Linked DNA regions of Homo sapiens. The protein of the gene in region 1 purifies or fractionates together with the protein of each later gene. This does not show direct contact. Each region holds a gene or a part of one and is shown on either strand. Other genes may lie near its edges. The genes, in order: PPP1R2, SULT1C3 and ISOC1.

Region 1 (3,658 bases):
TCATCCTTGTAATCCCAGCACTTTAGGAGGCTGAGGTGGGAGGATTGCTTGAGCTCAGGAATTGGAGATGAGCCTGGGCAACATAGAGAGACCCCGTCTCTACAAAAAATAAAAAGAATTAAGCCAGGAATGGTAGCACATGCCTGTAGTCCCAGCTACACAAGAGGCTTAGGTGGGAGTATCACTTGAGCCCGGGAAATTGAGGCTGTAGTGAGCCGTGATGGTGCCACTGTACTCCTGGGTGACAGAATGAGACCCTGTCTCAAAAAAAAAAAAAATTTTATTTAAGTGAAGATGCTTTTTATAGAAACATCATGTCTTATTATCTAAGAATCTCACAGTTAGTATACAAGAAGTTATTGCTTCTGTATACATGTACATATATAAACATAATTCAGTAAATTTTACAACTAGAATTTTCTATAGAACGATTCTATAAATTAACAAAATGTTTATTTTACCTTACTTTGCTTGATTAAACTCAATAACATAGATCAATTTCAACTTCCCTTAGAAAAAAGAACGTCATCTAAACTATAGACTTACTTGTCACCTTAATTAACCAGGAAATGTATAAACTGGCAGTATTTTATAAATAGCTGAGTTCTGCTTTATATACTTTGCAGTGGCTTAAGAATTAAGGTTGCCCATTTTTGCATTGAAGTGGGGAGCAAATTTTTCATTAGAGGGTAGAGTGAGAAAGCTAAATCACTTGTAAACTTCCGAAATTAGATCTTTGGGATCGAATTTTGTTACTTTACTCAGTCTTGTGTCTGCGTAGATCTTTTGTCTCTATCTTAAGATTGATGTAGAAATACATGTTCTAAAACCAGACAGTGATTTACTTTGCATTACTTGTTCCTTCCCACTGGATGGAATAATTGGAACTTTGTAGTATTTTTTTTTCCAGATCATTTACGTTTTCAGTACAGTTATTCCTCATTATCCATGGAGGTTTCAGGACCTCCCTCAGATACCGAAATCCTCAGACACTCAAGTCTCTGATATAAAATGGCATTGTAGATGTATATAATTATGCACATCCTCCTGTATGTGTTAAATCATCTCTGTGTTAGTTATATTACCTAATAAAATGTAAATACTGTGCAAATAGTTGTTACACACTGTATCATTTAGGGAATAATGATAAGAAAAAAGTCTACATGTTTAGTACAGAGGAAATTTTACTTTTCTCTGGCTATTTTCAATCCACGGTTGAATTCATGGATGTGGATCCTGTGGATATGGCAGGCAGACTGTATTTATGTGTTTTTTTTAATCATTTGGAGTCTTTTCTTGATTGGGTGCTGTACTTTTAAGTATTTGTATTGAATAGGAACTATATAAAGTTAAACCTCAAAGATATCAACAGAGCTATAAATATATTGATATGTTAAGTAGGTTGATGGAATTGTTTTTCTCCCTTGTTTTTGTGGCTGAAAATGTATGTTTCAGGTATTAATTACAATGTGCTTGTCATACTAGTATGATGGGGGATGATGAAGATGCCTGTAGTGACACCGAGGCCACTGAAGCCATGGCGCCAGACATCTTAGCCAGGAAGTAAGTACTAATGACCGGAGCACATTTTCACTTAGGCTGTTTATAATCGTGCAGAGTTGAAAGCAGCCTGCGTGGCTGTCCCTGTATGAGCGGGAAGAAAAGGCTGTTGATCAACATGTTTTATGCCGACTTTTTTTTCCTTTTTTCCCCCTTTTTTCACCTTCTGAGTCACCAACTTTTATAGTCTTGTCTCTTGATTAAAATCAAGGTATGTAGGTGGCAGGAAGACCAGCGTACCTGCACTTGGGATACTGAAATGTGTCACTTCCCTGTGGGGGGTTTTATTTGTTTTCTGAGACAGAGTCTCGCTCTGTCATTCAGGGTGGAGTGCAGTGGTGTGATCTCAACTCACTGCAACCTCCACCTCCCAAGTTCAAGCAATTCTCGTGCCTCAGCCTCCCCAGTAGTAGCTGGGATTACAGGCCCATGCCACCAAGCCTGGCTAATTTTTGTATTTTTAGTAGAGACAGTGTTTTGCCATATTGGCCAGGCTGGTCTCGAACTCTTGACCTCAAGAGATCCGCTGGTTTCAGCCTCCTAAAGTTCTGGGATTACAGGGGTGAACCACCGCGCCTGGCCCCTGCTTCCTGTTTTTAAAGGTAGCAGTGAGAAAGGCAAAAATAAGTTAATTCATAAAAGCACTCTTCCTTTGCTACTTACTGATTTCTAGCACCCATTCCACTGTTCTTGTCTATGCCCATTTCTACTCTTTTTATTCTTTTTTTTTTTTTGAGACAGGGCCTTGTTCTATCACTCAGGCTGGAGTGCAGAGGCGCAATCAAAGCTCATTGCAACCTCAAACTCCTGGGTTTAACTAGTGCTCCCACCTCGGCCTTCCAAATAGCTAGGACCACAGGCGTGTACCACCATGCCCGGCACGTTTCTGCTCTCTTGCCTTTTATTTTCCTCATCAGGTTATAGCTAGCACATTAATGATCTTCAGATGTTTTTGTAAGAATCAACAGTTGAATAAGGCGCTTAAATAATATCAAAACATCACTGTTAATTTCTTTGTACATGATTGTTGCATAGATTAGCTGCAGCTGAAGGCTTGGAGCCAAAGTATCGGATTCAGGAACAAGAAAGCAGTGGAGAGGAGGATAGTGACCTCTCACCTGAAGAACGAGGTAGTTTATTTCCTTTACTGCTTTCATCATGGTGCTAGTAATTTTTGCTAAGATAAATCCATTATTTGGAAGATGAGCAAATGGTTTTCATTTTGGGGACACACAGGGGAGGAGAATGAAAGCAACATCTTTATAATTCAGATACTACTTGTGTGTTTTGTTGTGTAATAGTTTTTTACCCCTGATTTCAAGAATATGGGGAAGTATTACCATCTTTAAAGTAATTATAAGTATTATTTTCTTTGTACTTTTTAGTGCAGAGTAGATACTCAGTAAATACTTTTTAAATTAATGCATTTCAAGTCATTGAGCGTTTGGACGGTCTTAAAGTGGGTAGCTGAAAGAGCTAATTTCCCAGTTGCTTATGCTTTTTGTGTTGTTGGACAGTGATGCAACTTAACAAATGAACCAAGATGATCAGATGCAGAGTGAAGGTCTTTATTAGGTCCCATCAATCAAAAGGAGCAGTAGTGTCACAGGAAGGGAGATGGAGACAGCCCTCCCCTTCACAGGGATGGAAGAGGGTCTCGTAGGCCATTCAGCACATACACATTTAAGGCATTGCTGCCTGCTCGTGCTTTCTGTTTCCACAAGTAAAAGTGGTTACCCGTGGAGGCTGGGAGAAAAGGAGTATGTCTTATCTTGTTGCATTTTATACTTTTTGATTCATGTGAATATATAATCTTCTCAGGAGTTAAAAAATTGTGTATAGTTTATTTGCAACTATTTTTAAAGGAAAATCCAAGCTTGTGGGTAGAGGGGAAAGATATAAGAAAAGCACATACTCACAAAAAAGAGGAAGAAGGAAAATATGGTAGAAACCTACTTGAAGTGTTGTGGCGTAGGGACTACCTCCTGTACCGTGAAGAAGCTGAGAAACTTTAGAACGAAGGATCTTTGTCGTGTAGCTGCTAAGATATCATTTACTAGTCTTTCCTATCATCTTCAGAATATAGCCTGTTCAACAG
Region 2 (3,658 bases), on another chromosome or scaffold:
GTTGGGGTCTGATATGGTTCGCCTGTGTCCCCACCCATTATAAGGGGGAGTTCCCCTGCACAAGCTCTCTTTTCCTTTGCCTGCTGCCATTCATTGCCTTCCACCATGACTGTGAGGCTTCCCCAGATACGTGGAACTTTAAGTCTGTTAAACCTCGTTATTTTTTAAATTGCCCAGTCTCAGGTATGTCTTTATTAACAGCATGAAAAGGGACTAATACAATAAATTTGTACTAGCAGAGTGGGGTGCTACTGCAGATACCTGAAAATGTAAAATTGACTTTGGAACTGGGTAACAGGCAGAGATTGGAACAGAAGAAGACAGGAAAATGTGGGAAAGTTTGGAACTTTCTAGAGACTTGTTGAATGGCCTTGACAAAAATGCCAATAATGATATGGACAATGAAATCCAGGCTACTGTGGTCTCAGATGGAGATGAGAATCTTGTTGGGAACTGAAGTAAAGGTCACTCTTGCTATGTTTTAGCAAAGAGAATGGTGACATTTTTGCCCCTGCCCTAAAAATCTATGGAACTTTGAACTTGAGAGAGATGATTTATTGTATCTGGTGGAATAAATTTCTGAGCATCAAATAATTCCAGAGGTGACTTGGGTGCTGTTAAAGGCATTCAGTTTTATAAGAGAAGCAGAGCATAAAAGTTTGGAAAATTTGCAGCCTGACAATGCAATAGAAAAGAAAATCTCATTTTTGGGGAAGAAATTCAAGCCAGCTGCAGAAATTTGCATAAGTAATGAGGAGCTGATTGTTAATCTCCAAGACAATGAGAAAAATGTCTCCAGGGCTTGTCAGGAGTCTTCATGGCAGCCTCTCCTATCACAGGCCCGGAAGCCTGGGAGGAAAAAATGGTTTTGTGGACTAGGCCCAGGGTCCCCGCGTTGTGTGCAGCCTAGGGTCTTGTTACCCTGCTTCCTAGCTACTACAACCGTGTTACCCTGCTTCCTAGCTACTCCTTGATTGTCCCATTGGCCAGAAAATGGCCATTCAATTCCCGTGTTCCTTTAAGGCACCTATTCTGTCTCCTATTCAGACAGTGCTTAATTAGTAAAGGGATTCTAAGTCTGGAAGTTAACCAGAACCCTTTTTCTATGGGTAAATGCTTTAGCATAGGCCATCATAGCAGGATATAGAGTTCAATCTAGCATGCTCCCTCCCTTAAAGGGGCCTTGCCCAATTATGTGATTTTTCTTGAAATTCATTTTTTTTTTGGAAGGCACGCAGGCCACACAAGTCTAGGAGGTCAAAGGGAAATAAAAGGCAGAAGACTAAGACTGCCTGTGGACAGTATGACTAAGGCCCAAAAGTTTAGTTCCTCTGGGGCCATGACTTATAGGGTCATGTCTGCAGTCATGGGTGGCACATTTAAATGGGTGCCAGGATTCAGGAGCCAAAGACAGAAAATAGTTGAGGAATGCCCTCTACTGTTTTCTTCTCCATCCTTGATCACAATACCGAAAGGAAGGAGACTAAAAGGACACTTTTATTCTCACTTCTGTTTTTAGATGGGTAACAGATCATCTTCAACATGCACTCCCCTGGAGTGTATTTTGAAGCACTGGGACTCCTTCATCCTTGAAACTTTGAAGAAAAAGTGGCTTATTTTCTTTTGCACAAGAGTGTGGCCTTTGTACTAGACCTTTGCAAGTGTTGCAAAATCAACCCAGCTCTTTTAGCAATCATATCAGGCAGGCCCAAAGAGAATAATTCCCCAAAATTAGAAAAGCAAGGTCCTGGGAAACCACCTGAGGATTCCCTTATTTGGGGGTGCCTTCAAGTTCCCTTCTCATTGCAGGACTTTAGACAAGTAAAGGCAGACTTAGGCTGATTTTCTGACCACCCTGATAGCTATATAGAAGCTTTCCAAAATTTAACTCAGTTATTTGCCCTCTCATGGAGGAAAGTTATGCTGCTCCTAAGCCAAACCCTAACTGTAGCTAAAATAGGCAGCTCTGCAAGCAGATGAGAATTTTGGAAATAAGTAATATGTCTCCTATAGTGTGCCAAAATGGAAAAGAAAAAAATAGGGAAGGCAAAAATATAGGCAAAACACCATTCCCAATAGGAAGAGAGGCGATACCTCATAACAACTGTAATTGGAACTCCTTTCTGTAGTATTTTTTCTTCTTTTATGGTTTATAATGGTTCTATCTCTTTTATAATGTCCCCTTAACCTGGGAAAAGTTAATTTTCCAAACTTAAAAATGCTTGGCTTAGAGTTGAGCTAGGGGGAAGGGAACCCAGAAGTGTGATATGCTGGCAAAAGGGTAAAAATTTCTTACCAGTTGGGCTTTTGGCTTCTCTCTCCCTGTGTGAGCCAGTAAAGGGGATAATAAGGATCATTGTTTATATTCTCTGTGAATTTATAATTAATGAAAAAGGATTTTTGTTGATCTTAAGCTGTAGACAATTTGGTGTGCTTTGCATGTCTTTCTGTATGGTTCTGTCAAAGAAAAGATACCTTAGGTTAGGATGCAGGCCCAGGACCCCACAAGTCTGCGGTTCAAGCCAGCCCAACATAATAGTAACAAACTTGGCCACAGGCCTCCATCTTGTTTCATGTCTGGATACATGACCTGTAACTACATGGCAATAATATACTTTACTCTCAGCCTTTTTACAATGGTGGCTGTCTTCTTGTGCTAAGTCAGTTCCTGAGTAAGGGCCAAAAAATCATATAAGCCAGTTTGTCAATCGGGTGGTGCTAGCTGATTCATCAAGGGTAGAGTTTACAAAATATCTTAAGCACTGATCTTGAAAGCAGTTTAGGGAGGGTCAAAATCTCATAGTCTCTTGCTGCATGACTCCTAAGGGATGGTTTCAAGACTTCTGGCTAGTTTTTTGGTCTTGTTCCCAGGCAAGAGGGAAGTATATCTTTTTTTTTTTTTTTGAGATAGAGTCTTGCTCTGTCACCCAGCCTGGAGTGCAGTGGCTCAATCTCAGCTCACTGCAAGCTCCACCTCCCAGGTTCACGCTGTTCTCCTGCCTCAGCCTCCCAAGTAGCTGGGACTACAGGCACCCACCACCACTCCCGGCTAATTTTTTGTATTTTTAGTAGAGACAGGGTTTCACCGTGTTAGCCAGGGTGGTCTCGATCTCCTGACCTCGTGATCCACCTGCCTCGGCCTCCTAAAGTGCTGGGATTACAGGTGTGAGCCACCGCGCCCGGCCCTGGAAACATATCTTAAGAAGGAGCTGTTACCATCTTTGTTTTAAAGTATAAACTGTAAACCAGGTTCCTCCCAAAGTTGGTGAAGCCTGTCCCCAGGGATGGGCAAGGACAGCTCGGGCGCTGGAAACAAAATGGAGCTGTTTGGGTCAGATGTCTTTCACTGTCTCAGTTACAATTTTGCAATGATAGTTTCAAAAGCTGCTTACCCTCCTTTGAAAATGCCTTGCACACTCACGGTTAAATCATAACCTAATTAAGGCTCATTGGTTTCACCTGTAAGGTTACTTTTTGTAAAATTGAAAAGTCAAAAATCTTAACTGCTTGGCATGGCTAAAGTCGAGTAAAAAGGGATTTAAAAGGATTTTCTTAAAGAGTGCTCAGCTTAATTAAAAATGGATATTCAAGTTATAGGTATATTTAAAAGTTTTTCTGGAAAAAGCCTTTTTTCCTCTCAGTCGACTGAATTATTTTT
Region 3 (2,938 bases), on another chromosome or scaffold:
AATCTGTGCTATAGAATTCTTCTATTTTCCTCCTTTCCTCTCTCTACCCTTTACCCCCGACTTTCTGTTCTTTGCTCTCTTCCTTCCCTTCTTTCCCCTTTGCCTTCTCCTTTCTGTCTCTCTTTTCCTCCTTGAGCTTTCTGTCCTTAGTATTATGATTCCACTGGGGCAGTTTGGCAAGGATATTCTTTGACCTGTCAGTGAAACTTTACACAACCTTGAATTTTACACTCTTGTTTAGTGGTATTAAAATGTTCATGATGGCAGCAGTAGTGGTGGTTCTCTTATCATCCAGGGAGTCTCCTGACACAGAGAGAGCTCTTTTAGCACCAGTCATTTCTAGACAAGGGAACTGTTAATTATAGGAAGGACTCATATGCTATAGGTCAGATGTTTGGGTGCAGTAAAAAGAAATTAAGAACCATCATTTTAATTCTTATAGTAGTTTTAATCCAATTAAACAATTTATATGAAATTTGATAGTAAATTACTAATGTAATGTTCTAGCAGCTACAATTATATCTGTAGTACAGCTAATGGAGCTTTAAAATATTACGCTCCCCTCGATTTTTAAAACATGAAGAGCTACAAAATGCCAGGGGTGCCAGGCATAAGTATTAATATGCATCACGATCTCATGTATTATCAGTTAAACTACAGAGGGGGAAAAGTGGACAGAGGCACCTTTTAAAAAATCTCAGTAGTAGAAATAGAAATAAAAGTTTAATAAATTTAGAAGTCACAAGCAGCCCTCATTTGAGTCAATGAATGAGTAAGACATGAAGCACAAACCTGCCAGGAGTGTTCAGGAAATAGCAGCAACTAAATGTCCAGATGTTCAGTGATGGGCACGTAGTAACAACCATTCCTTTTCTCTCTCTCATCTCATGTTTTACAGTCATTTGCCTTGATGACTTTCCTGTTCTGGGCACATATATGTCATAACTTTGGCTACCTGTTCCCTTTTACTCGTTCTACTCCATTTTACTAATATTAAGAATAATCATATTGACTTTGTGGTATGCCTGGTCTTGAAATCCATCCCCATCACTGAACTTGATGGTATGGCTGGGAACCACGGTTTCAGTAGAGGACACTAATTATTGCATCCCAGCATAGTGTTACTCTTCTGAAATAGTGTTCATTCTCATGCTTATTTCTTGATTTGCCTTTATCTTTTTGTTCAAGCGTCTCGCTCGAACCGGGATCATAGTGACCACGAGTGAGGCTGTTCTGCTTCAGCTGGTAGCTGATAAGGACCATCCAAAATTCAAGGAAATTCAGAATCTAATTAAGGCGAGTGCTCCAGAGTCGGGTCTGCTTTCCAAAGTATAGGACATTTGAAGAACTGGTATGCTACTCACTGGTGAAGGACAGTCAGGTGAAGGACTGTAAGCCCACACAAGCTCTTCTTATCTCTACTAGAATTAAAATGTTAAGTCAAAAACGGCTCCTTTTTTGCGCCTCCTAGTGAAACTTAACCAGCTAGACCATTTGAGTACCAGCATTTAGTTACAAACGTCAAAGGCTTCCGGTGCTGCTTACCTTCCTTTTTTGTTAATGTGCTTTTATTTATTAAAAAAAATTACAATGAAGATGCCTGTTTTGTCTCTACTGTGTACTCTGATCGTATCTTTCCAAAGTGCAGACTCTTGTGAAGTTTTCTTAAATTGTTCACTTTAAAGAAAATGACGTACCAACAATGATTTGGCTTTTATATTACTGTAAGATGTTATAATGTTAATGTGGATGTAGTGCTTTTACTTTACAGATTGATTGGAATAAGATTATTGCATATGAATTTACCCACAGGACTCTGAATCATGTTACCCACTCCCCTCACAATGTTGTCCACTTAGTGAGTTGCATTGATCTATCCGTACCAAATGATGTTGAATAATTACATATCTTTCTTGACTATACTGATTTCTTATTTTGGTCACTATTACTAAATCTCTGTTAATATTCTCTCTTTTAACTGAAAAGGGATGGGATAGAAGGGTTTGCAATGCCATATTATTGGTGGAGGGCTGTTTTAACATCTTTGAAGTATGGCTTGCTGAATATCTTTACCAACATCTTGAATATATATTCTAGTGTCCACAAGATTTAGCAAAAAGATAAAGCTTGGGTGGAATATCATTTTAAAATGTTCATGTTCTGTTCTATATTTTCTTCACCTACTCTCCAAATATTGTAATGCAAAAAGTCTCAGTAATGATTTGGTAGTATTAATTTTGTGGTCATTGTTTCTCTTCGATAAATTTATTTTCATTAAATACTTGTTAGAGGGTTTTGAAATGTTTTTCAAATATGTGAAATGTGAAACTGCTGTCTTTTATATTAAAGTAATTAAAGAAAATGTATTGTGATTGAAATTATTTTGTCCTCCACAAGATGGCTCTATGAGTATTCTTCCAGGGATTCTAATATTTATTTAAGGTAATAAAATCTTGACATTTATAATCTTTCAACTCATGGGAGTTTTCAAAGAAGGAAAATCCTTTGTACGTAGGGGCAGATGGATTTTACTAAAGGGTGAAAGGCCTTCTTCATTAAGAGCAGATTTTTTTTATTTTTCCTATTGGCAGTGGTAACAAATAGCAACCTGGTGTGTTTAAATACTTTTTTCCAACCATTTGTGTGTCAAAAAAGAAGAATCAAAGATTTCTGCACCTTTAAAAAGTTTTTATTAAATTTAACCTAGTGCTTCTCAAACTTTAATATGAATGCAAATTATTTGAGGATCTTGTTAAAATGCTGATGCTGACTCAGTAGGTCTGTTGTGCAGCCTGAGGTGACATTTTGCATTTCCAAGGTGACATTTCGCATTTCCAAAAATTGGGCATTTTCCACCAGTGCTGTTCAGAAAGGACCATATTTGAAATAGCGAGAATTTAACTCCAGACAACTGTTTTCCTCCACTGCACCCAAACCT

Evidence for each region.
Region 2: the proteins of PPP1R2 (region 1) and SULT1C3 fractionate together in Homo sapiens (co-fractionation; one large-scale study listed by BioGRID). This does not show direct contact.
Region 3: the proteins of PPP1R2 (region 1) and ISOC1 fractionate together in Homo sapiens (co-fractionation; one large-scale study listed by BioGRID). This does not show direct contact.

The regions. Positions count from the first base shown.
Region 1 is NC_000003.12:195,522,724-195,526,381, reverse strand, and holds part of PPP1R2 (protein phosphatase inhibitor 2), read left to right. Parts: intron 1-1,485; coding exon 1,486-1,563; intron 1,564-2,595; coding exon 2,596-2,690; coding exon of another isoform or gene 2,691-2,693; intron 2,694-3,658. UniProt on the Homo sapiens protein: Inhibitor of protein-phosphatase 1.
Region 2 is NC_000002.12:108,242,877-108,246,534, reverse strand, and holds part of SULT1C3 (sulfotransferase 1C3), read right to left. Parts: intron 1-3,658.
Region 3 is NC_000005.10:129,111,667-129,114,604, forward strand, and holds the end of ISOC1 (isochorismatase domain-containing protein 1), read left to right. Parts: intron 1-1,188; coding exon 1,189-1,335; 3' UTR 1,336-2,362; downstream 2,363-2,938.